Regions from separate parts of the Homo sapiens genome. Here all the other regions are linked to region 2. The links come from fine-mapping of genetic effects on gene expression. A gene starts in region 2. Each other region holds a variant in brackets. All regions are shown on one strand. Distances are between the middles of the regions. Region 1 holds the start of LOC124907765 (a long non-coding RNA gene). Region 2 holds the start of MSH6 (mutS homolog 6). Region 3 overlaps FBXO11 (F-box protein 11).

Region 1 (10,509 bases), 270 kb before region 2:
TTCATACAATTGGAAAAAACTACTTTAAAGTTCATATGGAACCAAAAAAGAGCCCACATTGCCAAGACAATCCTAAGCCAAAAGAACAAAGCTGGAGGCATCATGCTACCTGACTTCAAACTGTACTACAAGGCTACAGTAACCAAAACAGCATGGTACTGGTACCAAAACAGAGATATAGAGCAATGGAACCGAACAGAGCCCTCAGAAATAATACCACTCATCTACAACCATCTGATCTTTGACAAACCTGACAAAAACAAGAAATGGGGAAAGGATTCCCTATTTAATAAATGGTGCTGGGAAAACTGACTAGCCATATGTAGAAAGCTGAAACTGGATCCCTTCCTAACACCTTATACAAAAATTAATTCAAGATGGATTAAAGACTTAAATGTTAGACCTAACACCATAAAAACCCTAGAAGAAAACCTAGGCAATACCATTCAGGACATAGGCATGGGCAAGGACTTCATGACTAAAACACCAAAAGCAATGGCAACAAGAGCCAACATTGACAAATGGGATCTAATTAAACTAAAGAGCTTCTGCCCAGCAAAAGAAACTACCATCAGAGTGAACAGGCAACCTACAGAATGGGAGAAAATTTTTGCAATCTACCCATCTGACAAAGGGCTAATATCCAGAATCTACAAAGAACTTAAACAAATTTACAAGAAAAAATCAAACAACTCCATCAAAAAGTGGGCAAAGGATATGAACAGACACTTCTCAAAAGAAGACATTTATTGCAGCCAACAGACACATGAAAAAATGCTCATCATCACTGGTCATCGGAGAAATGCAAATCAAAACCACAATGAGATACCATCTCACACAAGTTAGAATGGCGATCATTAAAAAGTCAGGAAACAACAGGTGCTGGAGAGGATGTGGAGAAATAGGAACACTTTTACACTGTTAGTGGGAGTGTAAACTAGTTCAACCATTGTGGAAGACAGTGTGGCAATTCCTCAAGGATCTAGAACTAGAAATACCATTTGACCCAGCCATCCCATTACTGGGTATATACCCAAAGGATTTTAAATCACACTGCTATAAAGACACATGCACGTGTACATTTATTGTGGCACTATTCACAATAGCAAAGACTTGGAACCAACCCAAATGTCCATCAATGATAGACTGGATTAAGAAAATGTGGCACATATACACCATGGAATACTATGCAGCCATAAAAAAGGATGAGTTCATGTCCTTTGTAGGGACAGGGATGAAGCTGGAAACCATCATTCTCAGCAAACTATCGCAAGGACAGAAAACCAAACACCGCATGTTCTCACTCATAGGTGGGAATTGAACAATGAGAACACTTGGACACAGGATGGGGAACATCACACACCGGGGTCTGTCGTGGGATTGGGGGAGGGGGAGGGATAGCATTAGGAGATATACCTAATATAAATGACAAGTTAATGGGTGCAGCACACCAACATGGCACATGTGTACATATGTAACAAACCTGCACGTTGTGCACATGTACCCTATAACTTAAAGTAAAATAAAAAATAAAAAAGTTACTGATCCTTTGTTTTGTTTTGCAGAGTTAAGAAAACTTTTCTTTTAAGCTATTTATAGCTTTCAACAATTGAGTAAAGTATACCCCTGTGGACAAAATTTGGAGCCTATTTGTTTCTCCTACCTGATTTCTCCAGAATTTGGAAACTATTTCTAACTATTCTAAATTTATGGCAATATAGTTATTTGCATAAGTGCAATAAGAATCTGTTTTCTTTTGCAACAGGACACAGTTGGAAAAATTGGTTATTTTACCAAGACTGTCCGGAATGGCATGCTTTCCTTTAAGAACTCAAATTTGACTTATAGAGCCAATAAAAGCCCCTTGGGGAACTAGCCTCATACCTCGCCTACAACAGTCCCTGTACAAGGTTTCTGACCTGTTGTAAGTAAAGAATGTCACTTTTGAACAGGTCCAGGAGCCCCAGGTTATCTTGGGACCCCAAGAGGAGAGGAATTTACTCAACTCTTAGATATTTGAGGGCACAAACCCATGGCTGGCCTTGGCTTTAAAAAAGTCTTATCTGAGATTCCTTCTATGAAACAGTTCCATCAAAGCCAATTTACAAAAAGCCTATGTGAAAAAATAATTATTCCTGCTGCACTTTATACAAATAATCAGACAAAGCATAATAAAGCAAATCAGTCTTACCATAATTTGTCTTTAGTAAATATGGGAAACTGGAGAGAAAAATTATGTTTCAAAAACTATGGTACAGTTGTTATTAGATTCTAGTATCATCAATTGTTTTTAAGATTGTTTCTGCAATTTAGGCTAACATTGTTTATTCCTGTGAACCAACCAGTGATCTCTGGCTGCTGCTCAGATGGGTGATGTAAAAACCTGGATCAATATTCTAATCCTGGGCACACAGTGGAATCTTCTAGCAACCCCATATCAGCTTGGTTCCAACAGTTGCCTAGTTCATGGAAAGCCTTCTAATTTAGTTTGCCTGGAATAATTTTACTTATTTTGCTTTACTGTTGTGAAATATATTGCTGTTGTACTCTTTGTGTAGGGATGCAGGATAAGTTTACTGAATGTTTTCTTAAGTTGAACACTTATTAATCTTCCAGATATCACCTTTTGTCAGAATTCGGAGTTTTGAATGGCCCTCGCCATACCAACACTTTCTGACTGAGCTCCTCTCTACCCTAAACACAAAAGACTCTAATAGTTAGGCAGGAACATAATTGCCCCTATTCAGCCTGAAGAAGTTGCAGAAGATGGATCTTCATCCCTCTGCAACCCTTAGGATTAAGGGTTCTCCTATAAAAGGGATGGGGGAAATGTCAGAGGCGTGTAAACCAGAACAACTCCATCTTAAATAGGAGCTGGCTAAACTAAGGCTGAAACCTACTGGGCTGCATTCCCAGATGGTTAAGGCATTCTAAATCACAGGATGAGACTGAAGGTCAACACAAGATCAGATCATAAAGACCTTGCTGATAAAATAGGCTGCAGTAAAGAAGCCAGCTAAAACCCACCAAAACCAAGATGGTGATGAGAGTGTCCTCTGGTCGTCCTCACTGCTACACTCCCACCGGTGCCATGACAGTTTACAAACACCATGGCAACATCAGGAAGTTGCCCTATATGGTCTAAGAAGGGGAGGCATAAATAATCCACCCCTTGTTTAGCATATCATCAAGAAATAACCATAAAAATGGGCAACCAGATGCCCTTGGGGTGGCTCTGTCTAGAGTAGCCATTCTTTTATTCCTTTACTTTCTTAATAAACTTGCTTTCCCTTTACTCTATGGACTCACCCTGAATTCTTTCTTGCATGAGATCCAAGAACCCTCTCTTGGGGTCCGGATCGGGGCCCCTTTCGTGTAACCACTTCTTCAATGAAAGAGTTCTGCATTGTGAATTGAAAACCAAAAACAACATTCTAAGCCACCCCCAGCCATCTGAATGGACTTCCTCATCTGCTGGTGTGCTCTAAAATTTAACCTGAAAGACTGGTTCAGGCCTTGACGGGAAGTGAGGGTCTGACGTGCCTTTTTATACCCTCCAGCATTAACATCAAGGCAGACCTTAAGTCTGATAAGAAATATTTACAATTTATTCTCTCTGAAACCTGCTATCTGGAGGCTTCATCTGCATGATAAAAGTTTGATCTCCACAACCTCTTATCATAACCTAGACAATTCCTCTCTATGGATAATAACTCAACCAATTGCCAATCAGAAAAGTTTTAAATCTACCTATAACCTGGAAGTTTGGAGTTGTGCTGCCTTTCTGGACTGAACCAATGTATATCTTAAATGTATTTGATTGATATCTCATGTCTCCCTAAAATGTATAAAGCCAAGCTGCACCCCTACCAACTTGAGCACGTGTTCTCAGGATCTCCTGAGGGCTGTGTCACCAGCCATAGTTACTCATACTTGGCTCAGAATAACTCTCTTCAAATATTTTACAGAGTTTGACCCTTTTCATGGACTGAATTCATCCAGGTAGAAATTGGGTGAAATGCTGTAACTTAATTTGGGAGTAATGAAAATTAGGTATTATTCACCAGACCTATTTTATAAAAAAATTGCAAATCAAGTAGGGCTTTAGAAGGCTGCCCTTGTCTTTCAATCCCAGGAATCCCATGAAGAATAAACCAACATCAAAGATCTCTTTAGAGCAGATCCTTCTGATTACCATATGGCCCAGAGCCTATTCAGGAGCCTCACTCACTTTGCCTCTGGCAATTAATTCCAGAACTTGGCCTGTGCCATCCCCCCCGCACCTTTCCATCCCCATCCCTGGTTGATTTAACTTCAATCATTATCTTATATACACTAATTATCTTTACCTATACTACTAATTACTTACTGCTAATTAACTTAACCTAGGACAGAAGCCAGAATTTACTAAAGTTCTTGCAAAGAGCTGCAATAACATTGTTAGGAAAAAGCTTTTCTCTAGTTTCTCATCAAATGAACACCTCTCTGCAAAGAACATCACATACTTTTAATTACTCTACCAATACAACTTTTAAGGCAGAGATTTGCTTTAAATTCATGTCAAGGTCATCAAATGAAATTCTGAAGAGCTATCTTGAACATTTTGTAATAATCTATTCTGACTAGAAAGGAGTTTAAGGACCTTTTTAAATTCTTGCAAACACCATTCTCATTTTATTATTTGAATGAATGTGCCTGGGGCAAACTTACCTAGTTTAAAAAAAAAAAAAATCCCTAGCAGATACTTCCAAGCAACCTGTTTCTTTCCTGCACTGGGTCTACATTTTTCACAAAGTTCCTCATCTTTAGAATGTGTTTGCTCTTGGTCTTTCCTGAAGAAATGTCTTATTCAGCATTTATTGCTTCTTCCATTCCAGAGGTGGGGAGATGCACTGGCCATATGGAAAG[A/G]GAGATCAGTAATTTCTGGTGCTTAACGTATACTACATTTGAGACGGGCTCAAGATTTAAAGGAATGAGCCAGCTTGGAGTTACTAACTGTGGAGTCAAAAGTGGTTTCATCAGATTGCATTTGAATTTCTAATTCCAGCCCTTCGCTTTCTCCCTGACTCTCCATTCTCAAATGGCAAGGCTGAGAGAATCCCCAGTGCATTCCATCTCTTCAGACCTGAGAAACATCATTCAGAGGAATTATCGCTGTGTCTCTCATCACAGTTCTGTCCATTTGGAAAATGGCACAGAGTTCAGGGAGTAGCTTCAACATGGGCCTGAGCCTTTCTCCAACATTTCCAAACACTTCTATTTCTTTTGTGGCTTACTCTCTATTTTGCACTTTTATCTCAGCTCTTGCTGAAGGTTGCGCCTGACCCCAAATTCATTGCCCCTCACCAAGATGACTCACTGAGAGCTGCTCTGAGGAGCAGCATGACAGAGTGGAAAGAATGGATTCTGGAGCTATAGCTGCACTCAAACCCTGGCTCTGCATTTACTGGCTCTGAGACTTTGACCACATCTCTCGCCTCTGTGAACACCAGTTTCCTCATCTGGAAATGAAGTGCATCAGTCCTACGTCAGAGGGTTATTATCAGAATTAGAATAAATATATGTAAATTCAAGGGAATCTCTGAAGAGATAATTCTAACCTTCCAACCACAGGAGCACATTTACTATTAGGTCTGACCTTGTTTTGCTTTTACCCTTCCTAGTTTCAGCTGGGCCTCAAAAGCAAAAAGGCCAAGATCCAACAAGAAAATCTGTTTCTGCTGTATTCTCTTGGCTGCCTAGGAAGACTCTTTTGGCAGGCTTTCTGGTGATCTGTCCAAGCCTGGGGCCTCTCTTCCCTGGAGTTTCCATCACCTTGTTTAGAGGAGAAGAAACTCTAAGCATCATTATGCAGTGCCTGAGAGGCAGTTGCTCTCTTTCTTAATCTGAATTCCTTTAGTCCTTTATTTCCCTCTTTGTCTCCCAAAGAAACCAATCTGCACACTGTGGGACATAGAATAATATTTATTACAAGGATGACAATAATAATAGCAGCCTCTATTTATTGCCTGCTTCCTATTGTCAGACATGAGAGACCAAGCACATTATATATTATCTCAATTATTATATAATAGAAATGGCAAATATTAATGCAGTATAAAAACATTAAAAGGGGTAAAAATGGTATTTCATATTGATAAAATGTACAATCCACCAAGAAACTATATTAGTCATGAACTTCCATGCACCTAACAATATAGTTTCAAAAAAATATGAAGAGAAAAGATTCTAGCATTTTACAAGGAGAAATCGACAGAATGACTATCATGTTAAAAGTTAACACACTTCTCTATAAAAGATATCGAAAACACAAAATTAAGCATAGCAAGAGTTAATAACATGGTAACAAGTTATATAGAAATTTGCACTCAACAGAGATTACACATTGTTCAGAAACATGTGGAAAGAGTTACAACTAACCATGTATTAGGCCATAAAGAAAATGTTCATAAACAAAAAGCAGCATTCATACAAGTATATTTATTGAAAAAATGCAAAAAACTTAGAAATTAACAACAAAAGGATAGCAAAAAAAATTGATCTAATTAGAACATTTAAATGCCTTTTTATAAATGTTTATTGCATGTATCAGTCAGGGTTTAATCAAAGATATTGACCCCTTAAGAAATATATAAATGTGTTATAGAGATTTTACCTTATGCAGTTGTGGTTGCTGGTTGAATACTAGTCTCTGTAAGGGTATTGTCATTGCATCTGATGCTGGAGCTGGAAGTCCTCAGGGCAGGCAGTCAAGATGTAAAATAGGGAGAGCAAGAACAAGCTGGAACCCATAAGCACAAGCTTGAGCCAATAAGACAGGCAAAAACCTGTGTTTGTACTTGTTGCCTCTGACCTTGGTCATGCAGAAGCCAGGGCCCTTTGTCATGAAATTAGGCGCACACACACACACACACACACACACACACACACACACAGATACACACACACACACTCCTGGCCCAAGAGTCAGAGAAGCTGAAGGAGGATCCAGGGGAAGATGGAGCAGTTCCAGTCCTGGCCACTGCCCACACCAACAAGGAAACAGACAAGGTATGTGTGTTTCAAAATGGCTGTTGCTTCATTTACAGTCTCCAAATCCCCCAGGGGAATCTCTCTTGTAATACAGCCTAACTGGAAACATTCAAGAAAGGGAATTCTGGGAAATGTAGTTCAGCCTAGTCAAGGCAACACGTTACAAAGCCACTTCAGTCTGTTCTTTGCCAAGTTTGCAGGCATACATATCTCCATAGTTAACCTCCAAATAAAGGAAATAATAAAGTCATGCTTCTGCCTAACATAATACAATTATCGCCATGCAACCAAAAATATGGTCACTCAGGGGTCAGAGACTTTTTCTTAAAGAGCCAGATAGCAAATATTTTAGGTTTTATAGGTCACATAGTTTCTGTTGCAACTATTCAATGCTAGCATTGTATCATGAAAGCAGCCATAGAAAATGCATAAGTGAATGAATATGACTGTGTTCCAAGAAAAACTTTTTTATAAAAATAGATGACCAGCTCATGAGCCATAGTTTGTTGAGCCCTGCGTTAATTCTTTTATGTAAAGAGAATAAAAAGTCCTCTTTTTGATTTGGGTGATCTTTTATTCTTCTCCTAATTGATTCACATGTCACTTTTTGATATCTTGTAACTTAAGTATTGAGAAAAAAGTTAACTTAGCATATATTATATTAGATAAGGAGATGAGAAGGAAGGAAGAAAACAAAAATATTTGGTTAATATATACATAATATGCACATCGAAGTAAGTATTCACAACAATCGTAGTCCTCTTTTCTGCAATGTTCATGTGGTCATAGCTGGTATTTATAACTGCCTTCTTCTACTAAGCATTCATATTTCCTTATCAAGCCCTGTAACTAGTCACAGTTCCTTATCTGTTTCCAAATTTATTCCTAAAAGGTCTGACCATTAACAGTTCTGCTTGAATTGGAGGTTGTTGTAGTTTTACACTGACTTAATAATCACAAAATATGAGTATACTAAAAGTTTCCCTAGAGGGTCTCCTGCATTCTAGACATAGCCATTCATTCCATGGTAACAATTTAATTTTCCCTTGATAGTCAAGATCAGTCAACACAGCCAGTATAGTAACCCCTTTCTTGATATGCCATTCATTCAGTGGCATTAGGAGCTCAAAGTGGCCAAGTGGCAGTCTTCTCAACTGAGTGTTCAATGGAATCATTGTGTCCCTGGTGGAAGCATTTCTTCCTTTGGAACTAAGACTTCTAGAGCAGTAGAGCCTAAAATTTTGGGGATGAAAAAAAAATTGTGCTAGTGGATCACTAGGGATGATCATGAGAACAACAACTTCCATTTCCACCTTTTGCTTCCTAGACTTGTAAAGCTTGCCATGGTAGAAATAGCACTATAGAATGGATATTGATTTAGAACATTAACCACAACCTGAAGGACCTTGACCCAGTCCCACAAGGTGTTGCCACCCAGCTAGTGTGATAACTGAGCCTTTCAAAGACTATTCTACCATTTTAACACATCGATTGCTTCAGAATAATGGGTAACATGGGTAACATGGTACAGAAATAACTTCTGTAGTCTGGGAAAATGCTGATGTTACACTTGGCTGCCCAGAGAACAGTTTCAGTTCCCACTGGCCACCTAGAAATATGAGGCAGCTTGCAAGTGTAGAATGATCATTTTCTTTATGGAGTTGAAATAAATCTCAGGTCACAAATTAAGGATTGAAAGAAATTAACTTTATTTTTTAATAACCAAACATAATTTACTTTATGAGCCTCATTCCATATAGTAGTAGAAACCTAGTGAGTCAATCCAGGGACCTATCTTTGGGATTACATGAGTTTATGGCATAGGAAGGGAGGCACCGTCATCTCTCTGTAACTGCATGTGTTGAGATGTCCATCATTTAGCTGGGCCTTGGTCCCAGAGCCCTTCTCAGCCTCTTGCTCCTGACCACTAGGTCTCTCCAGGCTGGCTCTACCTTGAGTACTTCTGTGCCCCTCTCAGAGATAGAGGAAACACTCAACTCTGCTTCTATCCTACCTGGACAGGAAAATTCTACAAGTATTAAAACTTCCCTGAAAGCAAGATATAATCTTCCTCTTCTCCTAAATCCCTATTCCCATCTGGGGAAGATCTTGCTTCCTTCATACTCCTCAGGAATTGACCTGGGGGCAAGCCATATGACCCCTGCTGAGGAACAAAAAACTGGTCCTGCTTTCTCTCAGATGCTCCTCTTATTCCTCCCCCAGTTCTGGACACTTTATCTAATCTCAGATAGAAAGGAGGGAGAAAGAACTATCTTTGATTAATCAAGTATTATTCTTAATGTTTTTGCCTTCTTTCTGGACCTAAGCTTTTAAAACTCAAAAGGTAAAATTTCACTCTTTTGTTCTCCGATTTTTCTGCAACAACCTTTCCTAAGACAATCTATATCTCAAGAATGAGGGAAGGGCTGTAAGATAAATAAAAAGAATCATAGGGAACTTATATCAGTTAATATCAAAGTACTATTCTGTTACAATTAAACATATTATATCCTTATATAAAATTTGTTTCATTTTATTTTAATTTATTTTAATTTTTTAGACACAGGGTCTCACTCTGTTGTCCAGACTGGAGTGCAGTGGAGTTGATCATAGTTTACTGTAACCTCATACTCCAGGGCTCAAGAGATCCTCCCGGCTCGACCTTCCAAAGTGCTAGGATTATAGGTGTGAGCCACTGTGCCCAGCCGAAATCTGTTTATTTAAAAGAAATCATAGTCCTTAATTTTCCTTCAGTTCTACCCAAAGCAGAAAACTGCCTAGCAGTGCTCTAAGTTTCCTTGATGTGAAGAAAGTCCGAGACACGGTCCTCAACCTTATAGGTTGAATTGTGTCTCCCAGAAAGAAATGTGAAAGTCCTAACTCCCGGCCGGGCGCGGTGGCTCACCCCTGTAATCCCAGCACTTTGGGAGGCCAAGGCGGGCGGATCACGAGGTCAGGAGATCGAGACCATCCTGGCTAACACGGTGAAACCCTATCTCTACTAAAAATACAAAAAAAAAATTAGCTGGGCGTGGTGGCTGGCGCCTGTAGCCCACCTACTCGGGAGGCTGAGGCAGGAGAATGGCGTGAACCCGGGAGGCGGAGCTTGCAGCGAGCCGAGATCGCGCCACTGCACGCCAGCCTGGGCGACAGAGCGAGACTTCGTCTCAAAAAAAAAAAAAAAAAAAAAAAAAAAAAAAAAAAAAAGTCCTAACTCCCAGTGCCTCGGAATGTGACCTTATTTAACAATAGGGTTACTGAAGATGTGTTAGTTAAGAACAAGTCATACTGGAGTAGGGTGAGTCCCTAATCCAATATAACCAACTGGTGTCCTTATAAGAAGAGGAGAAAAGGTGCAGAGACAAAGAGGAAGAAGATAGCTATGTGACAACAGAGGAAGACTTTGGAATGACGTACGTATCAGCCAAGGAATGCCAAGGATTCCAGCAAACACAGAAGCTAAATGAGTCAAAGCAG
Region 2 (9,485 bases):
ATCTCAGAATTCCTTTAGGACACTTTAAACTGGATTTAAATGGATTTGAAATCCATTACTCAAAACCACTAACTAGCGGCCGGGCACGGTGGCTCACACCTGTAATCCCAGCACTTTGGGAGGCTGAAGTGGGTGGACCACTTGAGGTCAGCAGTTTCAAGACCAGCCTGGCCAACATGGTGAAACTCCATGGTGAAAAATCAGCCGGACCGCGGTGGGCACACCCGTAATCCCAGCTACTCGGGAAGCTGAGGCAGGAGAATCACTTGAACCCGGCGGGCAGAGGTTGCAGTGAGCCGAGAAAGCGCCACAGCACTCCAGCCTGGGCGACAGAGCGAGACTCCATTTCAAAACAAAACCAAACAAAAAACACGAACTGGCTCTTATCTTGAATGAGTTATTTTTTCTGAGCCTTTATTTCTTCGTTTGTTCAAATAGCGACCATTAAACTTTGTGTTTAGTATCTGACAAACGGCCGGGCTCGGTGGTTCATGCCTGTAATCCCAGCACTTTGGTAGGCCAATGCGGGCCGATCAAGAGGTCAGGAGTTCGATACCAGCCTGGCCAACATAGTGAAACCCGTCTCTACTAAAAATACAAAAATTAGCCAGGCGTGGTGGGGCGCACCTGTAGTCCCAGCTACTTGGGAGGCTGAGGCAGGATAATCTCTTGATCCAGAGACAGAGGTTGTGGTGAGCCAAGAACGCGCCACTGCACTCTAGCCTGGACAAAAGAGCAAGACTCTGTCTCAAAATACATATATATGTATCTGGCAAACAGCAAAAGCAAGCTTTTCAAAATGTCGCCAGCTGCCCGGATAAAAAGCCCTAAACAGACCGGGCGCGGTGGCTAGCGCCTGTAATCCCAGCACTTTGAGGCCGAGGCGGGTGGATCACCTGAGGTCGGGAATTCCGAGACTAGCCTGACCAACATGGAGAAACCCCGTCTCTACTAAAAATACAAAATTGGCGGGGTGTGGGGGCGCATTCCTGTAATCCCGACTACTCGGGAGGCTGAAGCTGGGGAATCGCTTGAAGCCGGGACGCGGAGATTGCGGTGAGCTGAGATCGCGCCATTGCACTCCAGCCTGGACTTGAGCGAAACTCTCTCTCAAAAAGGAAAAAAAAAAAAAAGCACTTAACTGCCCATAAAGTGAGGACAACTCCCGACAGGCTTCCCCGGAGTCACTCACGTCCACACATCTTTGTCCAGCGCCCGATTAAGGCCTCTAAAAGCCCAGTGGTGCCCCATAAAAATTACACTATTTCATAAAATAAAATATTTTCCACTCGACACGAATTTCCACATACGTCAAAATATTCTATCTTCGTCTCGGTGCACGTGCAGCCTACCTACCGAAGGACCCAGCCGGATCCCAGCACTTCGGCTCCCCACGGCCCCGCCCCGCCCAATTAGGCCCCGCGGTCCCCATGGTGACACACCCCCCCGCGCTCGCAGCTCGTGGCCCACCCCCTCGGCGGCCCCTCACCTAGGCCGAAGGCCCACCGTCCCCAAGGCGTCTCGGCGACCGCGGCTCTTAACTACCTCTAAGTGTCTACCTCGATCGACTACTGGAGCCCCAACTCACTATCTCCGCGCCGGCCGAGGAACCTCCTTTCGCACCCCACACCACCGGACTCTCCCCGTTCGGCCTCCCGCAGGCATTCCTCCTTCCCGCCACCCCGCCCCCCGCCCCGCCCACCAAGTGGGCCGGGCGCCTTCCCCTTCTCGCCCCACCCCCAGTGCTCCCACCTCCCAGGCCCCCTCCCCACCCGGAGCTGCGCGCGTCGCCCCTTCCTTAGCCCAGCACCCCCACCTGGCGGGACGCGTCTCCTCCCTCCAAAAGGCCCGAACTCTCCGCGTCTCCCCTGCAGCCCTCTTCCTGCACAGCCTCTCTCCTCCGACCCTGTTTACAAGCTACACCCCCAAATGCTCCAGACTCGACCCCTGCACTCATTCAAGCCAACTCTGCGGCCCCGCCTCCTCCGAGCCCAGGGCCAGGCCGTGCACCCCCCCAACCCCCTGTGCGAGCCTCCCCTCGCCGGGTTCCAAGCGCCCCGCCGCTATGCCCCCGCCTTCGACCCCACCCCCACCCCGCTACCTGGTGGGGGCAGCAGGCGCTACCGATCTCCGCAGCCCTCCGTTGAGGTTCTTCGCCTTGGGCGGTGACGCGGAGCGCGCCAAGGGCCTGGGCCCAGGCCCAGCCTCGCTCCAGGCCGCATCCCCGCCTGGGGAAGGAGAGGCCCCGGGGGCAGCGGCGGCACGGCCGCCTTCGCGTGAGGCCCTGGCCGAGGCCTTGTTGGCATCACTCAGCGCCGGAGACTTGGGGAAGAAGCTGTACAGGGTGCTCTGTCGCGACATACCGACAGCCGGCAAGGCCCAACCGTTCTGTCGGACGGAGCTCCTAAAAGCACCGCATCTACCGCGCGGCTCCTGCTGGCGGGAAATCTGGGGGGAGGCGCGCTCCGCCGGAGGAACCCGGGCCCCAGTGGCCAATCAACAGGCGCCTCGCCGTGCGCGGGCGGTGCGCGCCAGGCCCCGCCCCCGGGCGCGCGGCGACGTGGGGAAGGGCGGGGCTGGCACACTGGTGGGTAGGGGCGGGGCTGGCACGCTGGCGGTGAGGGGCCCGCCCTGCCGCCGACGCCTGGGCCCCGCGCGGGGAACTGCTGAGCTCCCCTTCCCTCACGCCGCGGGGCTGGCCGGGCCGGAACACTCCGACCCGGGGTTAGTTGCGGCCGCGGGGCTAGCAGGCTCGGAAAGCCCTGCCTCTCTGGAGCGGAAGCGGGAACAGCGGGGGCGCGCACCGCCCGGGCGGGGATAACCGGGGGGACCCGAAAGGCCTCGGAAAGGGGCTCGCGGGGAGAAACGCGTCCAGCGCTCGCGTGACCTCCTGCCGTTAGAGCATTTTCGCAAGGAGACGGAGCGAAAGGGACCAAACTTTAGTCAGCAGTTCACCTTCACGTTGTATTCTCAAGATTTGTATAGAGTAGGCACTTGGTAAACGCTAAATGAATATTGTAATAGCATTCGTTAGCGATGCTGTTGTGTATGGTGAAAGCCTGCAGCTGTACAAAGTTTTCCTTTGCCAGGCACTGATCCCAGCATTTTACATCTGGTAACTAAATCGATCCTCTCAATAACCTGTGACGTAAGTACTTAAGGGCCACAGTCCGTTATCTGAGCCCTTTGACCCAGGTGTGTCTTTACAGGATTTTTCAAATTTTAGAAAGCTAAGAGACTATGAGAGGCCGGGCGCAGTGGCTCACGCCTGTAATCCCAGCACTTTGGGATGCCGAGGCGGGCGGATCACCTGAGGTCAGGCGTTGAAGACCAGCCTAGTCAACATGGTGAAACCCCCGTCTCTACTAAAAATCCAAAAATTAGCCGGGCGTGGTGGCATGCGCCTGTAATCCCAGCTACTTGGGAGGCTGAGGCAGGAGAATAACTTGAACCTGGGAGGCAGCGTTTGCAGTGAGCCAAGGTCGCGCCACTGCACTCCAGCCTGGGCGACAAGAGCGAAACTCCGTCTCAAAAAAAAAAGAAAGAAAGCTAAGAGGCTATGAGAATAAAAAGGTTCTATTCAAATTCAAGAAAGATAGTGGAAGACAGACAATTGTTTGTCCCCTTATCCAGATTGTGAAATCCAGATTGCCGGAAACCAGTCACAATCAACAGCTGTACATTGGTAAAAACCTATGTAAAATTAGTTGTTTGCCTTGTTCTTGGAGACTGTTCTGCCAGAAGGTTCTCCTTTGCTAGGCAAGTAATAAAATCAATCTAAAAAAAAAAGGCGGGGGCCGGGCGCAGTGGCTCACGCCTGTAGTCCCAGCACTCGGCACTTCGGGGGGGGGGCGGAGGTGGGCGGATCACGAGGTCAGGAGATCGAGACCATCCTGGCTAACACAGTGAAACCCCGCCTCTACTAAAAATACAAAAAATTAGCCTGGCGTGGTAGCACACGCCTGTAGTCCCAGCTACTGGGGAGGCTGAGGTAGGAGAATGGTGTGAACCCGGGAGGCGGAGCTTGCAGTGAGCCGAGATCGCGCCTCTGCACTCCAGCCTGGGCGACAGAGCAAGACTCCCTCTCAAAAAAAAAAAAAGAATATTGCCAAAGGTGGTATGTGCTAAGAAAAATACAGTATGCTTCACGAATTTGCATTTCATCCCTGTGCAGGGGTCATTCCAATTTTGGTATATGTGCTACCCAAGCAAGCACAGTGAAACCAACTGTTTGAGATAATATTTGAGAGTTGGTCTCTTTCCCCCACCGGCATACGTAAACACCCCCAGAGAGTCTGGGGGAACATGCTGAAATCAAACATGCAGTAAAACTTACATGCTTATTCATACTAAGTAGAAAGAATACAGAATATAGACTATAAATAGCCTCAGGTCAAAATTTGCTACCAAATGAGTTTACCCCCAAACTTTTGGTTTACAGAGCTTTTTGGATTTCAGAATTGCACGTAAGAGGCTGGTTATCCTGTATCTCCATATCATGGATGAAGCTGAGGCACAGTTGGGTCAAGTAACTTGCCCATGACTGCATAGCTAGGAAGTGGTGGAGCCTGGATTTAAACTCAAGGAAGCTGGTTCTGGAGCCCTATGTTGTTAACAGAAATACTATAATACTTCCAATTTAACACCATTTTATCTCATTTAGTTATTACAACCACCTTATACTAGGTTGAACTATGTGAAATTGCCAAAATTTGCCCTTTTTAAAATTTTTTTGAGACAGGGTCTGGCTCTGTCACAGAGGCTGGAGTATAGTGGCGTGATCTTGGCTTACTGTAGCCTCAACCTCCCAGGCTTAAGTAATCCTCTCACCTCAGCCTCCTGAGTACCTGGGACCACAGGCCCGCAACACCATGCCCAGCTAATTTTTTTTTTTTTTAATTGAGGAGTCTTATTCTGTCACCCAGGCTGGAGTACAGTGACGCCATCTTGGTTCACTGCAACCCCTGCTTTGCGGGTTCAGGCAATTCTCATGCCTCAGCCTCCTGAGTGCTAGGATTACTGGTGCCTACCACCATGCCCAGCTAATTTTTGTTTTTTAGTAGAGACACGGTTTCACCATGTTGGCCTGCCTGATCCCAAACTCCTGACCACAAGTGACCCGCCTGCCTCAGCCTCCCAAAGTGCTGGGATTACAGGTATGAGCCACTGTGCCCGGTGCCCTGCTAGTATTTTAAAAATTTTCTGTAGAGACGAAGTTTCACTATGTTGCCCAAGCTGGACCTTTTTGGTTTTTTGGTTGTTTTGTTTTGAGACAGGGTCTTACTCTGTCTCCCAGACTGGTGTGCAGTAGTGCAGTCTCAGCTCACCACAACTTTCACCTCCCAAGCTCAAGCAATTCTCCTTCCTCAGCCTCCTGAATAGCTGGGATTACCGGCACGCGCTACTACTGCCCAGCTAATTTTTGTATTTTTAGTAGAGACAGGATTTCACCATGTTGGCCAGGCTGGTCTCAAACTCCTGACCTCAAATGATCCTCCTGCCTCGGCCTCCCAAAATGTTGGGATTACAGGCGGGAGCCACTGCGCCCAGCCAAGCTGGACCGTTTTTGAAGTACAAATATTAATATTTAATTCATTTTGGTTCAACTGAATATAACGTTATTCTCTTTTTGTTGTTGTTGTTTGTTTTTTTGGGGATGGAGTCTTGCTCTGTCACCGAGGCTGGAGTGCAATGGCACGATCTTGGCTCACCACAACCTCCGCCTCCCAGGTTAAGGCAATTCTCCTGCCTCAGTCTCCTGAGTAGCTGGGGTTACAGGCACCAACACACCCAGCTAAGTTTTGTATTTTTAGTAGAGATGGGGTTTCACCATGTTGGCCAGGCTGGTCTCAAACTCCTGACCTCGTGATCCGCCCATCTCTGCCTCCCAAAGTGCTGGGATTATAGATGTGAGCCACTGCGCCCGGCCGATGTTATTCTTTTACAGGGAGGAAATGGAGGTTCAGAGGGGATGCGCCAGTTGTAAGAGGTTAAGAGCCTGGGCTTTGGGTTAAATGGAGAACTGAGCTCTGATCCTAGCTAGCCAAGCAGATAACTCGGAGCAATTAATACTTTTCTGAACTTGTTTCCTCGTCTTTGATAAGGACAGTAGTACCTATGGGCCAAATTTTGGAGGCTACAGTTAGATGCCTCCCACAAACTTCATTAAAAGACAAGAGAACACATGTATTATGTGGGGACACTCAGACCCCCAGAATTGGCATGAATGTTACTTGGAACTGAAGACATTTGAGAGCCAACAGATGCAGAAAGATGCCGTTTCAAAGCTTCCCTTATGCGACTAACAGCAGAAATTTCTGGGAGTGAAGCTGCCGTAAATCTCCTCTCTAGGGGAGTTTTAGTGGCCAGAAAAAAAGACAAAGACCACTTGCACCTGCAAAAACAAACATTCTTATCTCCCTTTTGTTCCCCCAGAAACCTATTTGTTCTTCCCATGGAAGGCTTTTTCTCCCTCCTCTTCCCCTATTAAATGGTATATATAAAGTAGATTTCGAGATTCAAGAAAAAAAAAGTTGTATAAATGCCAAATAACAGCCTCCTGGACTCACTTTTTTTTTCTGTGAACTCCTGCATGCATATCTGAATAAAAGTCTGTCTTTTTTTTTTTTTTTTTCTGAGACAGGGTCTCACTCTGTTGCCCAGGCTGATCCTCCAGCCTCAGCCTCCCAAGCAGCTAAGACTGCAGGTGTGCGTCCTCACACCCTGATAATTTTATTTTCTGTAGAGACTGGGTCTTGCTATGTTGCCCAGGCCGGTCTCCAACTCTTGGGCTCAAGCCCTTCTCTCTACTTGGCCTCCCAAAGTGCTAGGATTACAGGCCTGAGCCACCGTGCCCGGCCCTAAACTGTCTTTAGTCTGCAGTGCCCAACCAACACATACATTCCATGACTATATATGGGTTATTTTGAAAACTGAATAAAAATATTTTTCTTTTATATGTATTTTTTTTTCAAATGGCTACACTTAGTAAATTGCATAACAATCAATGGAGTTGTTTTGGCCTAGGAGATGTGGCAGGAAAGTACTAAGGTAGTAAATATACTAGGTGTTTGGGAACCTCTGGCCTACTGGTTAAGAGCTCTGTATTCAAAGTTTGTGTTCACATCCCAGCTGAGCTGCTTACTAAACTGCACGAGCTTGTTGGGCAAGTTATTTAGCCTGTGCCTCAGTTTCTACATCTGTAAAACAGGGATGATATTAACACTACCTTCTTCATGGGTTGTGCTAAGCATTGAGTGAAAGGGCATTATGAAGCCCTCAGCCCAGTGCTTGGCACGCCATACGTATTCAATAAATTGGACAGTTATACAAATAAATCACCAACTGGCCAGGGACAGTGGCTCACACTTACAATCCCAACACTTTGGGAGGCCAAGACAGAAGGATGACTTGAGGCCAGGAGTTCAAGACCAGCTAGCAACATAGTGAGAACCGCCTCCTTCTCTACAAAAACATTTAAAAAATTTAGCCAGGAGTGGTGGCACGTGCCTATAGTCCTAACTACTCTCTACTCGGGAGGCTCAAGGCAGGAAGATTGCTTGATCCCAGGAGCTTGAGGTTGCAGTGAGCTATGATCAGGCCACTGCACTCCTACCTTGAGACCCTGTCTCAGAAAAAAAAAACAAAAACAACACACACACACACACAAAACAGAAGAAGAAAACAAGTATTCTCCAGAAGAATACAGTGCCCTGTGTTCCCCCCTTTGCCCGTCCAAGGAACAGCGTGACCCAGCAATCTACGTCTTTGTCCTGGGCCTTGGGAGATAAAGTCAAGGATGAAGAAAGGAGGGGCATGTTTTGTGAGGGTTCCGTCCTAGCCCAAGCAGCTCACGATCACCAGGGACAAGCCTGTAGTCTGCCAAAGTCAGGGTTTGTTTTGCTGGTTGCAACGGGGGAGCCTCCACAGCAGACGAACCATGGGGGTGTCTCACCAAACTACAAAAGGGAGGGAGAGGGTGGAGTTTAGGATAAATTTACCTGAAACAGTGTTTTGAAAGCTCAAATCTAGCTGTGTGTAAAGACAAAGCTAAACTACAAAGTCCACCCAAGGTCGCATTTCCTTGGAAACAGCAAAGTTAAGATAGATGTGGAATAGCGTCCACAAATCCCGTATCTAAAGTTACACACCTGGGTTGTAAATCAAAGCTGTTTCTGTGTCAAAGTAAGACGCTCCAGGCAAGAGTGGGATGTTTCATTTTTGCTGATATAATTTCAAACAGCAAGGCAAGGGGAGGTGGCTTACGCCTGTAATCTCAACAGTTTGGGAGGCCGAGGTGGGAGGATTCCTTGAGCCCAGGAGTACAAGACCAGCCTAGGCAGCAGAGTGAGACCCTTTCTCTACAAAAAAAAAAAACACAAAAATTAAAAATAAACCAGCTGGGCATGGTGATGCATGCCTATAGTCTCAACTACTGGCGATGTTGTGGAAGAATCACTTGAACCCGTGAGGCCGAGGCTGCAGTGAACCGTGATCGCACCATTGCATTCCAGCTTGGGTGACAGACTGAGACCCTGTCTCTAAATAAATAAATAATAACAATAATTTCAGCCAGCAAAGTTTCTGAAAGCCTATGACTTTAGAGAACAAGATTTCTGAGATTGTCAAGAGTAAAAAAAAGTTTTCCTTATGCTACTTTGGGATGGCAGTTTATCCTTGGGACAGATTGTGTTTCCTGTTTAACTTTGTAGCTGACTTTATCTTTGTTATCCCAGCCAGATGAATGGCCTGGAATGTTTCAGATTTCTCATTCCTTGCTTATTTTAACTTTCTCAATTCTCAGGAAAAAGGAGGGGAGAAACTTTGTGCAAGTCAGGTGGAAAGAAATAGCACTTGCACTCTGCCTTTGGTCAGCAAGGGTACAGAAATCAAAGCCTCTTGTGTACTCCCCTAAGTACCAAAGGTGTGGTGGAGGCTCTGGGAGGATGGCTGGGGAAGACAGACCCAGAGTCCACTTGGAGAGAGGAAAGATGGGCCTGAGGGCTTCCATAGCCTGGAGGCACTCCCTTCCCCCACTCCAGCTATCTTCTCCATCCTGTGACTAACATCCATTATTATTTTATTTTTTGAGCCAGGGTCTGGCTCTGTCACCAGTGGTGCGAACATGGCTCATTGCAGTCTCAACCTCCTGGTCTCAAGCAGTCCTCCTGCCTCAGCCTCTAGAATAGCTGGGACTACAGGCATGCTACTACCATGCCTGGCTAATTTTTAAAATTTTTTTTGTAGAGATGGGGTCTCCCTATGTTGCCCAAGCTGGTCTCAAACTCCTGAGCTCAAGCAGTCCTCCCACCTCAGCCTCCCAAAATGCTGGGAATACAGACATGAGCCACCTCGACTAACTGGCTGGAAACTTTCATTATCTCAGACCACAAATGGCCCTGGGGGATAGAGAGATGGGGAGGGCTAGCACCAGTATTTCTCTAGCTCTCCAAAGCCATCCTAGGTGGAATTGCCAGGTACTTTTC
Region 3 (10,509 bases), 99 kb before region 2:
AATACTTCAAAAATACCTGAAGTTACACTGTAAGGAACAGCCATCAGGATGGTGCTGTGAGTTTCAGCATTGAGATTCTCTGTCTCTTCAAAGACAGCAATGATAAACATACACACAATTAATAATCATACTTTCCGAATGAATGTAGATGCATAAATCTGCATCTTCTCTAGAAATCATAAAGAGGAAAAATGCATCAACCTCTGTTTTCAGTGAACTGAAAGACATATGTAAACTCCAGATTATGTTATTTGAGGGCTATCAAAAACATCCGAAAGGGACAGAAGCTATTAGTTTAAATATACTTACTGACAGTAAGGGGTTCATGTTGAAGTTCAAAAGGTAAATCTCTTGTTTGTAATGACGGGAGTTGGTGGCGAAGTACCTGATTATATTCAGAAAAGAGAAAGTAGAGCTGTACACATGTGCACACAGAGCCACATGTACAGGAACCAGCTTTTCTCTGTATTTTTAAATAATTTTTATTTATTTATTTCTTGAGACGGAGTCTTGCTCTGTCACCCAGGCTGGAGTGCAATGGCACAATCTCGGCTCACTGAAACCTCTGCCTCCCGGGTTCAAGTGATTCTGCTGCCTCAGCCTCCCAAGTAGCTGGGATTATAGGTATGCATCACAGGCCCGGCTAACTTTTTTATTTTTAGTAGAGATGGGGTTTCACCACGTTGGCCAGGCTGGTCCAACTCCTGACCTCAGGTGATCCACCCACCTCGGCCTCCCAAAGTGCTGGGATTACAGGCGTGAGCTCCTGCGCCCAGCCAAAAAATTTATTAATTCATACACAATTACTTGTCTTCTGGTTTGTTGAAGCAATAAGCCAGACATTTGCCACAATAATATCTGTCAAAGTGGCTTGCTGTAAACACTGCAGCACCACATTCATCTGAAGGGCACTCCCGACTAAGGCGACTAATTTTACCATTCTCATACACCTTATGGTATTTAAGGACAGCCAACTTAACCTTCTTTCTCTCGTGCTTATTCTTCTTGGGAGTTGTATAAGAATTCTTCCTTGATAACATCACAAAGTCTCAACACAAGATGAAGAGTAGACTCCTTTTGAATGTTGTAGTTAGATAAAGTACGTTCATCTTCCAGTTGCTTGCCATCAAACATCAGTGTTTGCCGATCCAGACGAATTTCTTCCTTATCCTGGATCTTGGCCTTTACATTTTCTGTTGTATCCAAGGGTTCAATCTGGAGGGTGATGGTCTTCCCCATAAGGGTTTTTACAAAAATCTGCATTTTGGTGGCGGCTCTGAGGTTGAGTGAAATAAAGAGATGAGTTAGATTAGGGGATACAGGAGAAGGCAATGCACAGGGCACTGGTCGCAGGGCAGCAGAAGAGCACACACTCCCTTTATTATTTAAAGCGTCAAAGGAGTAGAGAGTCTTTGGACTGTGAAGCCTGTTATTTCCTTCCTTTCCCACTCCCAGGAATCTATGTAAATAGCTGCTTCAGGAAAATTCAGTTTATTCTGTTACGCAAAATAAAAAAGAAGCTGATATGGCAGCAAAACTTCCCAAACACAAAGAACAGTCATTAGTGAAGTGTTGCTACAGAACAGATGAAAATTGTGACCCAGCATTTCACCATCTATTTTTTAGACTTGAGTAAAGCTTGTAAATAGTTCTACAAGAGAAGATTACAAAGCAGGAATGGTAAGAACTCAGAAAAGAGATGGCAGGGCAACAGGAGGACATAAAATGTGAGTTGAGGGAACTTGGGAAAGAAGTAGAAGAAAGCAAATGGCTGGGCATGGGGACTCACGCCTGTAATCCCAGCACTTTGGGAGGCTGAGACAGGGAGATCGCTTGAGCTCAGGAGTTTGAGACCAGCCTAGACAACATGGCAAAACCTGTCTCTAAAAAAGTACAAAATTAGCCGGGTGTGGTGGCTTACGTCTGTAGTCCCAGCTACTTGGGAGTCTGAGGTGGGAAGATGGCTTGAGCCAAGCAGGCAGAGATTGCAATAAGCCAAAATTGCCCCACTGCACTTGAGCCTGGGCAACAGAGGGGAGACCCTGTCTCAAAAAATAGTACAGAAATACAGATGAAATAAGAAGGAGCACAAGAAGCAGACTAGCCCCAAGGAAAACATAATAAGAGACACAGGGATTTTAAAAAATGGAAATAAAGATTTTATTTTTTTAAGTTTTAGAAAATACAGTAGATCCAACAAACTTAGAATTGAAACCCCTATAGAAGAAAACCAAAACATGACAGTAGAACAAGTGGTTAAAAACACAATTGAAGAAAAACTAGCTGAGATGAAACTTACGTATTGAAAGGGCATCTGTGGCAGGGAAAACTGACCAGAAAGATCTTAAAGATTCCTTTCAATAGCCAGAAACCTTCCTAACTACCCCACTCCAAGTTGTTTATAAGACATTGAAATCTGGCTGGCCTTAGAATTCTCCACAACATTCAACCCCAGTCGAACAACATTTATAAGATAAGAAAGTAAAGTGCGAGCTAAAGATTTTATATCCAGTCACATTGTTCTTAAGGAACAAATAGTACTCAGAGAATATTGTTTATGTGAGCCCTTCTTGAGGAAAATAGTAGAGTATAAACTTCAGCTGATAGACATGGGGAAATGATTGGTGTGTAAGCAGTGAATTTATATATAGACATAAAGACTAAAATGTGGGCTGGGCGTGGTGACTCACATCTGTAATCCCAGCACTTTGGGAGGCCAAAATAGGCAGATCACTTGAGGCCAGGAGTTCAAGACCAGCCTGGCCATCATGGTGAAACCCTGTCTCTACCAAAAATATAAAAATTAGCTGGGCATGGTGGTGCACACCTGTAGTCCCAGCTACTTGGGAGGCTGAGGCACGAGAATCACTTGAACCTGGGAGGTAGATGGTTGCAGTGAGAGATTATGCATGCCACTGCACTCCAGCCTGGGTGATAGAGCGAGACTCTGTCTCAAAAAAAAAGACTAAAATGTGGAGATCATAACGACAGAATATAATGTTAATATTGTATACCCTGATGATATACAAATGATCAAACTAATAAAATTTGAGAGAAGGAATTGCCCTATGGTAATAACTGGTATTGAAAAAGATGTTTAAACATCACAGATCAAATAATAGAAATATAAACATATTCAGCACTTTAAAAGAAACATTAAAATAAAACTAAAACACTAAAGATAATGCTATTAGTTTCAATACTATTGATTAAATAGGGTAATGGGAGAGGAGGCGTGCTAATTTTAACATTACTCATGTTGAGGAACTAATAGGTATTGTCTAAAGAGATAGAAATTACAAAGGTAACCATTAGAACAAAGCTATAAACCTTCCTAGATATTGAAAGAACTACAAACCAGTTAAAAATAAAACATCATTTAGTGAAAAAAAATTCTTATATAACCACATACATAACAAGACAGCCCTAAGACCAGACATACCTTTCTTTGTTTCTTTCTTTTTTTGAGACAGAGTCTCGTTGTGTCACCCAGGCTGGAGGACAGTGGCGCAATCTTGGCTCACTGCAACCTCCGACTCCCGGGTTCAAGTGATTCTACTGCGTCAGCCTCCCAAGTAACTGGGACTGCAGGCACCCGCCACTAAGCCCGGCTAATTTTTGTATTTTTAGTAGAGACGGGTTTCACCATGTTGGCCAGGCTTGACTTGAACTCCTGACTTTGTGATCTGCCCACCTCAGCCTCCCAAAGTGCTGGGATTACAGGTGTGAGTCACCATGCCCGGCCCAAACATGCCTTTCTTAAAAAAGATATTAATATGCTTAACTCACCTTTAGAAGGAAAATATTTTTAGCTTAGATTCAAGGCAAAACCCACTCTCTGGTTTATACAAGGTACACACCTAAGGCAGTGATTGTGAAAGACTGGTATTTTAAAAGATAGAGAAAAGGTATAAGATACAAATGCAAATGAAAATAATTTAGGAGTGTCATGATTTTAACATACCAGGTGGAGTTCATACTAAAAAACAATAAAGAGTGGCACTTATTTCTTAAAGGATACAATGAAAATTTAATAGTTGTGAATAGCAATATGTCAGATAACATAGCAAACTTGGTGAAGCAGAAATAACCAAAAATACAAGGAGAAATGGAAATACATTCATAGCAGGAAATGTTTATGTGAAAGACGCCAAACAAGCTTCAACAAATGAAACAACACAATGTTTTTTAATTTTATAAATTAAAACACTGGACATTCTGATTCCACAGTTCATAAGGAAAAGTAAACAAGAAAGGAGCCAGGAAAACTGAAAAAATGAAATTGGATGTTTTTCACATAAATACCAAACAGATCAATGAATAAAATAAAGCCATGAAAATACTAAAAGTAGAAGTCTTCTTATAATTTTAGTATGGGGAAGACCTTTTATACTGATTCAATCCAGAAGTCATGAAATAAATGATAAATTCTATTACATTAAAACACTCTCAGGGCACTCTGGGAGGCCAAGTTGGGTGGATTGCCTGAGCCAAGGAGTTTGAGACCAGCCTGGCAGCATGACAAAACCCTGACTCTACCAAAAATACAAAAAAATTAGCTGGACATGATGGCATGTGCCTGTGGTCCCAGCAACTCGGGAGGCTGTGGTGGGAGAATCTCTCGAGCCTGGAAGGTGGAGGCTGCAGTAAACCGAGATTGCACCACTACACTCCAACCTGGGTGACAGAGTGAGACCCCGTTTCCAAAAAAAAAAAACCTTCTCTGAATGGATAAAGAAAATGTATATACATACAATGAAATATTATTCAAACTTTAGAAAGGAAATTTTGTTGTGTGATACAACCGTAGATGAACCTTGAGGAATTACACTAAGTGAAAGCCAGTCACAAAAAGACAAATACTGCATGACCCCACTTATATGAGATATCTAAAGTAGTCAAACCCTTAGAAACAAAGTAGAGTGGTGGTAGCTAGGGGAAGGGGAAAAAGGGAATTGTTCAGTGGATATAGAGTTTCAGCAAAACTGGTAAAACTTATTTGCAGCCAAAACTTATTTACAGTTAGGAATTAGCAAAACTTATTGGTAATTTTAATCATAGACAGAGGGTAGCCTTCCTGATATACATGCAGTAAGTACTTGGAAACTTGATAACAAAAAGATCTTGCAACCCCATAAAAACCGAGCAAAGATATGAATCGATAATTCACAGAAAATTAAATATAAGTGGCTTTTAAGCTAATGAGGCCAGTACCTCATTCACAGTAAGAGAAGTTAAAACTACAATGATTATAGTTCCCTTATTAGGCAAAAACAAAAGTTGGGCAGCATACTCCATTGGTTGTGAAGCTTTGGGGGAAAAGCTGCTCATACACTGCTATTGAGAATACAAATTGAGATAATCCCTGTGGAAGGCAATTGGTCAATATCTGCCAGAGTAAAAATGTATTTACCCAGCAGGTTGAGTTTTCTGAAATTTATCTTATACTTTACACCACATGATACA[T/C]GTATCAGATTATTCTGTAATAGCAGAAGGTGAGAAACAATCCAGATGTCCATCAGTAGGGGATTAGTCAAAGAAATTATGGAAAAACCATATAATGGAATACCATGCAGCTGTAAGAAAAAGGCAAAATTCTGGGGCTGCATAATTTATATTCATATTTTTTTTACACTCACAAACTTGGAAAGGATGGACAAGGAAATCTTAACATGCGTTACCTGGAGAAAGGGGAGAGGAACTGAATACGTGGAAAGATTGGGAGGGAGGCTTTTTTGTTTTGTTTTGTTTTGAGACAGAGTTTCGCTTGGAGTGCAGTGGCGTGATCTCAGCTCACTACAATGTCTGCCTCCCCAATTCAAGTGATTCTCCTGCCTCAGCCTCTCGAGTAGCCGGGATTACAGGCATCCCACCACGCCAGGCTAATTTCTGTATTTTTAGTAGGAATGGGGTTTCACCATGTTGTTGGCCAGGCTGGTCTCGAACTCCTGACCTCAGGTGATCTGCCTGTCTCTGTCTCCCAAAATGCTGGGATTACAGGCATGAGCCACCGCACCTGGCTGAGACCTTTCATTCCTTTAAAAAAAAAAAAAAAATGCTGGACGCAGTGGCTCACACCTGTAATCCCAGCACTTTGGGAGGCCGAGGTGGGCAGATTGAGGAGTTCGAGGTCAGGAGTTCAAGACCAACCTGGCCAACATGGTGAAACCCCATCTCTACTGAAAATACAAAAATTAGCCCGGCATAGTGGCAGGCACCTGTAATCCCAGCTACTCGGGAGGCTGAGGCAGGAGAATTGCTTGAACCCAGAGGTGGAGGTTGCAGTCAGCTGAGATCGTGCTACTGCACTCCAGCCTGGGTGACAGAGTGAGACTCTGTCTTAAAAAAAGAAAAAAAAAAGAACAAAAGGCAAGGTGTTAAATAGAGACTAAATACATGAATCTATCAAAATCTGTTTTGCAGGCAGGAAGATGCCTCTGAGAGGTCGTCTGCAGAATAGAGACCAAAACTCTACTGTATATTGGTAGACAGATTGGAGCAGGGAGATGAACAGCCTGTTTTTATTACCCCAGAAACTAAAGGGCTGAATCAGGAAAAAACTGAAAAAGAATGTATGATTGTTGCTTAGGGATATGGCTTATATAAATTGCAGGTCCAGAGTGCTGGAAGGAAGCAGTGACAGCCTCCTGGGTAAAAGCTGGGCCTACCTGCCCATGACTTAGGGACTGGATCTTCAGGAGGAGACATATGCAGCAATTATAAGACCTCATTCTGGGCCAGGCACGGTGGCTCACGCCTGTAATCCCAGCACTTTGGGAGGCCGAGGCAGGCGGATGATGAGGTCAGGAGTTTGAGACCAGCCTGATCAACATGGTAAAACCCCATCTCTACTAAAAATACAAAAATTAGCTGGGCGTGTTGGCACGCGCCTGTAATCCCAGCTAGTTGGGAGGCTGAAGCAGGAGAATCGCTTGAACCTGGGAGTCGGAGGTTGCAGTGAGCCAAGATCGCACCACTGCATTCCAGCCTGGGCGACAAAGCGAGACTCCATCTCAAAAACAAAACAAAACGAAACGAAAAACCTTATTCTGGGGTGGGAGGTTTGAGTGAGAGATGGAGAAAATGAAAAATCGTTAGGGTAAGGTAAGCACACAAAGATACACACACACCATGCAACTTAGAGTTACAATGAACCTGCCAAACAAAAATTCGAAAATACAGAAGAAAAACTAAACCTAAAATAACCAAGTCAACACCTTCATCAGAGGGAAAAGAGAATGTTTTCTGTGTACTGATACAGAAATATCTCCTAAGTTTTGTTGCTTAGTGGGAAAAAATGGGAATCATGAAACAGTATTTATAGTATGTTTTCTTTTTTGCAGGAGTGGGAATAATTGATATTCAAGTGAATCCTTAGTCTATAGGTGTAAATAATAGAACAATTTTAAAGTGTATGTTTAAGATCCTCAGGGAGGTAAAGGAAGGAATAATTGCCATAAAAGAACCAAAATTACCAGTGTGGGCAACATAGCAAAACCTCATCTCTACAAAAAATAGAAAAATTAGCTGGGTGTGGTGCTGCACACCTGTGGTCCCATGCTACTGAGGAGGCTGAGGTGGGAGGATCGCTTAAGCCCAGGAGGTTGAGGCTGCAGTGAGCCATGATTGCACTACAGCCAGGGCAACAGAGCAAGACCCTCTCAAAAAAAAAAAACCCTGTATTAAGTAAGATGTCATTAGATGTGTACTAGACTGAACATGGTCAATGAAACAGTGATTTGGAAAATAGTATTAAGGAATTCACCCAGAATGTAGTAAGAGAGAAGTGGAAAAAAAAAAATGAATATAGATCGAGAGATTCAAACCTAAGTTCAATATTCAAAAGAAATTTTAGGAGAGATTAGACATAGTAGTAGAGAAACAGTATTCAGTGAGATAATGATTAAAAGGTTTCCAGAATTTAAGGTTTCATATTGAACTGAGTTTTCATATTGAAATAGCGCACTGCTGAACAGTTGCTTACCAGGATAAATTTTTTAAATCTTCTAGATGCTCAAAAGTGAAATTGCAGATCATAAAACATAAAAGCTTTTCAAAATGAAAAATGCCACAGTCCCTACACTAAAATATTAGTTAAATTAACAACGTATTTACCAGAACAGTGTCTTCCAGAAGATAAAAGGATCTTCTTTCCTCCGAATGTATAAGGAATATAACTGTTGACCTTGATTCTATACTCATTTAAACTATTATCTGTCAGCAAGAATGAGGCCCAAAGTGAGGAAATACACAAAATAGAGAGCTCCTCACTTACAGAAGCTTGATGGGAGAACCAAAGATTGTACTTCAGCAAGAATAGTAAACCAGGGAGAAGGAGGAATTGCAAAAAATAATACAGTGGCAAACAAAGAATTGGCAAAATATTTGATAAATCAAGTTGAGTTGATTGCAAATACATAATTTTTAAAGTAGAATCAAAACTCTAGACAATAACAAGAAAGTTGGAAAATAGAGTTGAGTCAGGAATGCTACTATTCTTGCTTTGTTCCCAAAAAGTAGCACAAAAAGAGACACTGACCAACTTCAGGGTATTTTACCAAAACTAAATAGCTATTTTGTGGCTCTGCAGCCAGACTACCTGAATGAAAGACTAGCTTATTTCTTACTAACTGTGTGACATTAAGGAGTTATTTTACCTTCTTACGCGTAAATTTCCTTATGTATAATTGGGGATGACAATAATACCTTCTCATAGTTGTTGTGGGGAGGATTAAGTGAAATACATATAAAGCCACTGATTAGTACTACTCTATACATGTTTGCTGCTGCTGCTGCTTTTCTTTTTTAACCTGAGTAACCACAAAAGGAATAGAAATAAAATAGATGTCTTCCAGACCAGCAGAACTAAAGGAATGAAAATAAGAGAATGAAGAAGGCTAAACCCTTGGTATACCATCAGGGTCAGTTGGAATAATTTTCATTTTTGATTTTCATTTTAGAGCAGTGCCAACTATTTAGAAGGGTAGATATTATGACTTGTATTCTTAGAGATCTACCAAAGAACAAAGAGAAAATTTATTTTAAAAAATTATTCTATCTTACAGTTACCATATGAGTCCATTAGACCCTTTTTTATAAACCTAACATCCATTATGAGATCTTAATAATCTTGGCTTTTCCTATATATTGAAATATTTTACTACTCTAGGAATTTTATCATTACTTATCAATTATTTATACTGTGCTAAAAAAAAAAAAGACAAAAAAAGAATGACAGAATCTCCTAGAAGGAAGATGGAAGATGTAATAAATAGTCATTTTTCAGTTTTCTCACTGCATTGCTCAAATACTACATCCTACTTCAAAAACGTATAAAAAAATTTAGGAGACATACGAATTAGAAGATAAACGCGAAGATAAATAGCACTCTAGACCTAAGTTGTCCAATATGGTAGCCACTTGCCACATGTGACTATGTATATTTAAAATAATTAAAATTAATAAAATTTAAAATTCCATTCCTCATCACACTTTTAAGGGGTTATGTAGGAGAAGAATACAACTTACAATTACTCTTACTTCACGGTGGCTGGCTGCCATGTTGGACTGCACAGATACGGAACATTGTCATCGTTGTGGAAAGTTATATTAGATATTGCTGTTCCATACGCCAATAATGATAGTGAAATTGAGCATATAAATGAAGTCAGACTTTGATTCTTGAGATGATCATATCCTGTATGAATTTTCTCAGACTTAAGAATTGAATGCAGAAGACGTTTTGACAAAGAAAATATGGTATTTTTATCCAGTTAGTCATTCAACAGGAATATTTCACAACATGAACCTGAACCATCCCTTTTTGCTTTAAAAAAAAAAAAAAAAAAAAGTCCTGAGACAATGTTTTTTAAATTTTGTATGTGGCCAGGCATGGTGGCACATGCCTATAATCCTAGCACTTTGGGAGGCTGAGGCGGGTGGATCGCTTGAGGCCAGGAGTTAGAGACCAGGCTGGCCAACATGGTGAAATCCCATCTCTACTAAAAATAGAAAAATTAGCTGAGCATGGTGGTACATGCCTGTAGTCCCAGCTACTCAGGAGGCTGAGGCACAAGAATTGTTTCAACCCAGGAGTTGGAGGTTGCAGTGAGCTGAGATTGCACCACTGCAATGCATCCTGGGCAACAGAGCAAGACTCTGTCTCAAAATTGTTTTTTTTTTTAAATTTTGTACGGTGTTTGTGTGTTAAACTTACTTAGTACAAAGAGGTATTTGCTGTATTTAAGTTCCTTTTAAAATTTATTTTAAAAGTTGTCTTGCACTGTCTCTGTAAATTATTTGTAAAATAACCTAAAAAAATTTTTAAGGCATCCTTTGGACCCAGGTAGTAAATGGTATGTTGAGGGTTAAAGCATGAGAGGAAAAGGGGGAATAGGAAGTAAAGGAAAATCAGGATAAATGTAACACAACAAAATAGAAATATAATTACAGTGGATTAATGTATATTTTAAAGTTATATATTTTATTTATTTATTATTTATTTTTGAG

Evidence for each region. PIP is the estimated chance that this variant, and not a neighbour inherited with it, causes the effect. A credible set is the group of variants that fine-mapping cannot tell apart.
Region 1: its variant is the best candidate, but not a certain one, in a credible set for the expression of MSH6 in whole blood (INTERVAL, PIP 0.81).
Region 3: its variant is the best candidate, but not a certain one, in a credible set for the expression of MSH6 in whole blood (INTERVAL, PIP 0.85).

What each region holds. Positions count from the first base shown.
Region 1 is chr2:48,043,911-48,054,419 of GRCh38, reverse strand. LOC124907765 (a long non-coding RNA gene) reads right to left here and starts at 7,058. Exons shown (of 2, transcript XR_007086314.1): 1 at 6,656-7,058. RefSeq lists enhancers at 6,373-6,896, 6,897-7,421. The variant A/G (reference allele first, on the strand shown) is at 4,909.
Region 2 is chr2:47,776,110-47,785,594 of GRCh38, reverse strand. MSH6 (mutS homolog 6) reads right to left here and starts at 2,450. Exons shown (of 10, transcript NM_000179.3): 1 at 2,102-2,450. The coding sequence starts at 2,361. RefSeq lists silencers at 1,668-1,757, 1,958-2,117, 2,398-2,877, 4,028-4,209 and an enhancer at 3,008-3,077.
Region 3 is chr2:47,874,209-47,884,717 of GRCh38, reverse strand. The region is part of intron 1 of FBXO11 (F-box protein 11); the gene reads left to right. It also overlaps the pseudogene RPS27AP7. Among named protein-coding and RNA genes, the nearest start is that of FBXO11, 27 kb to the left of the region's middle. The variant T/C (reference allele first, on the strand shown) is at 5,467.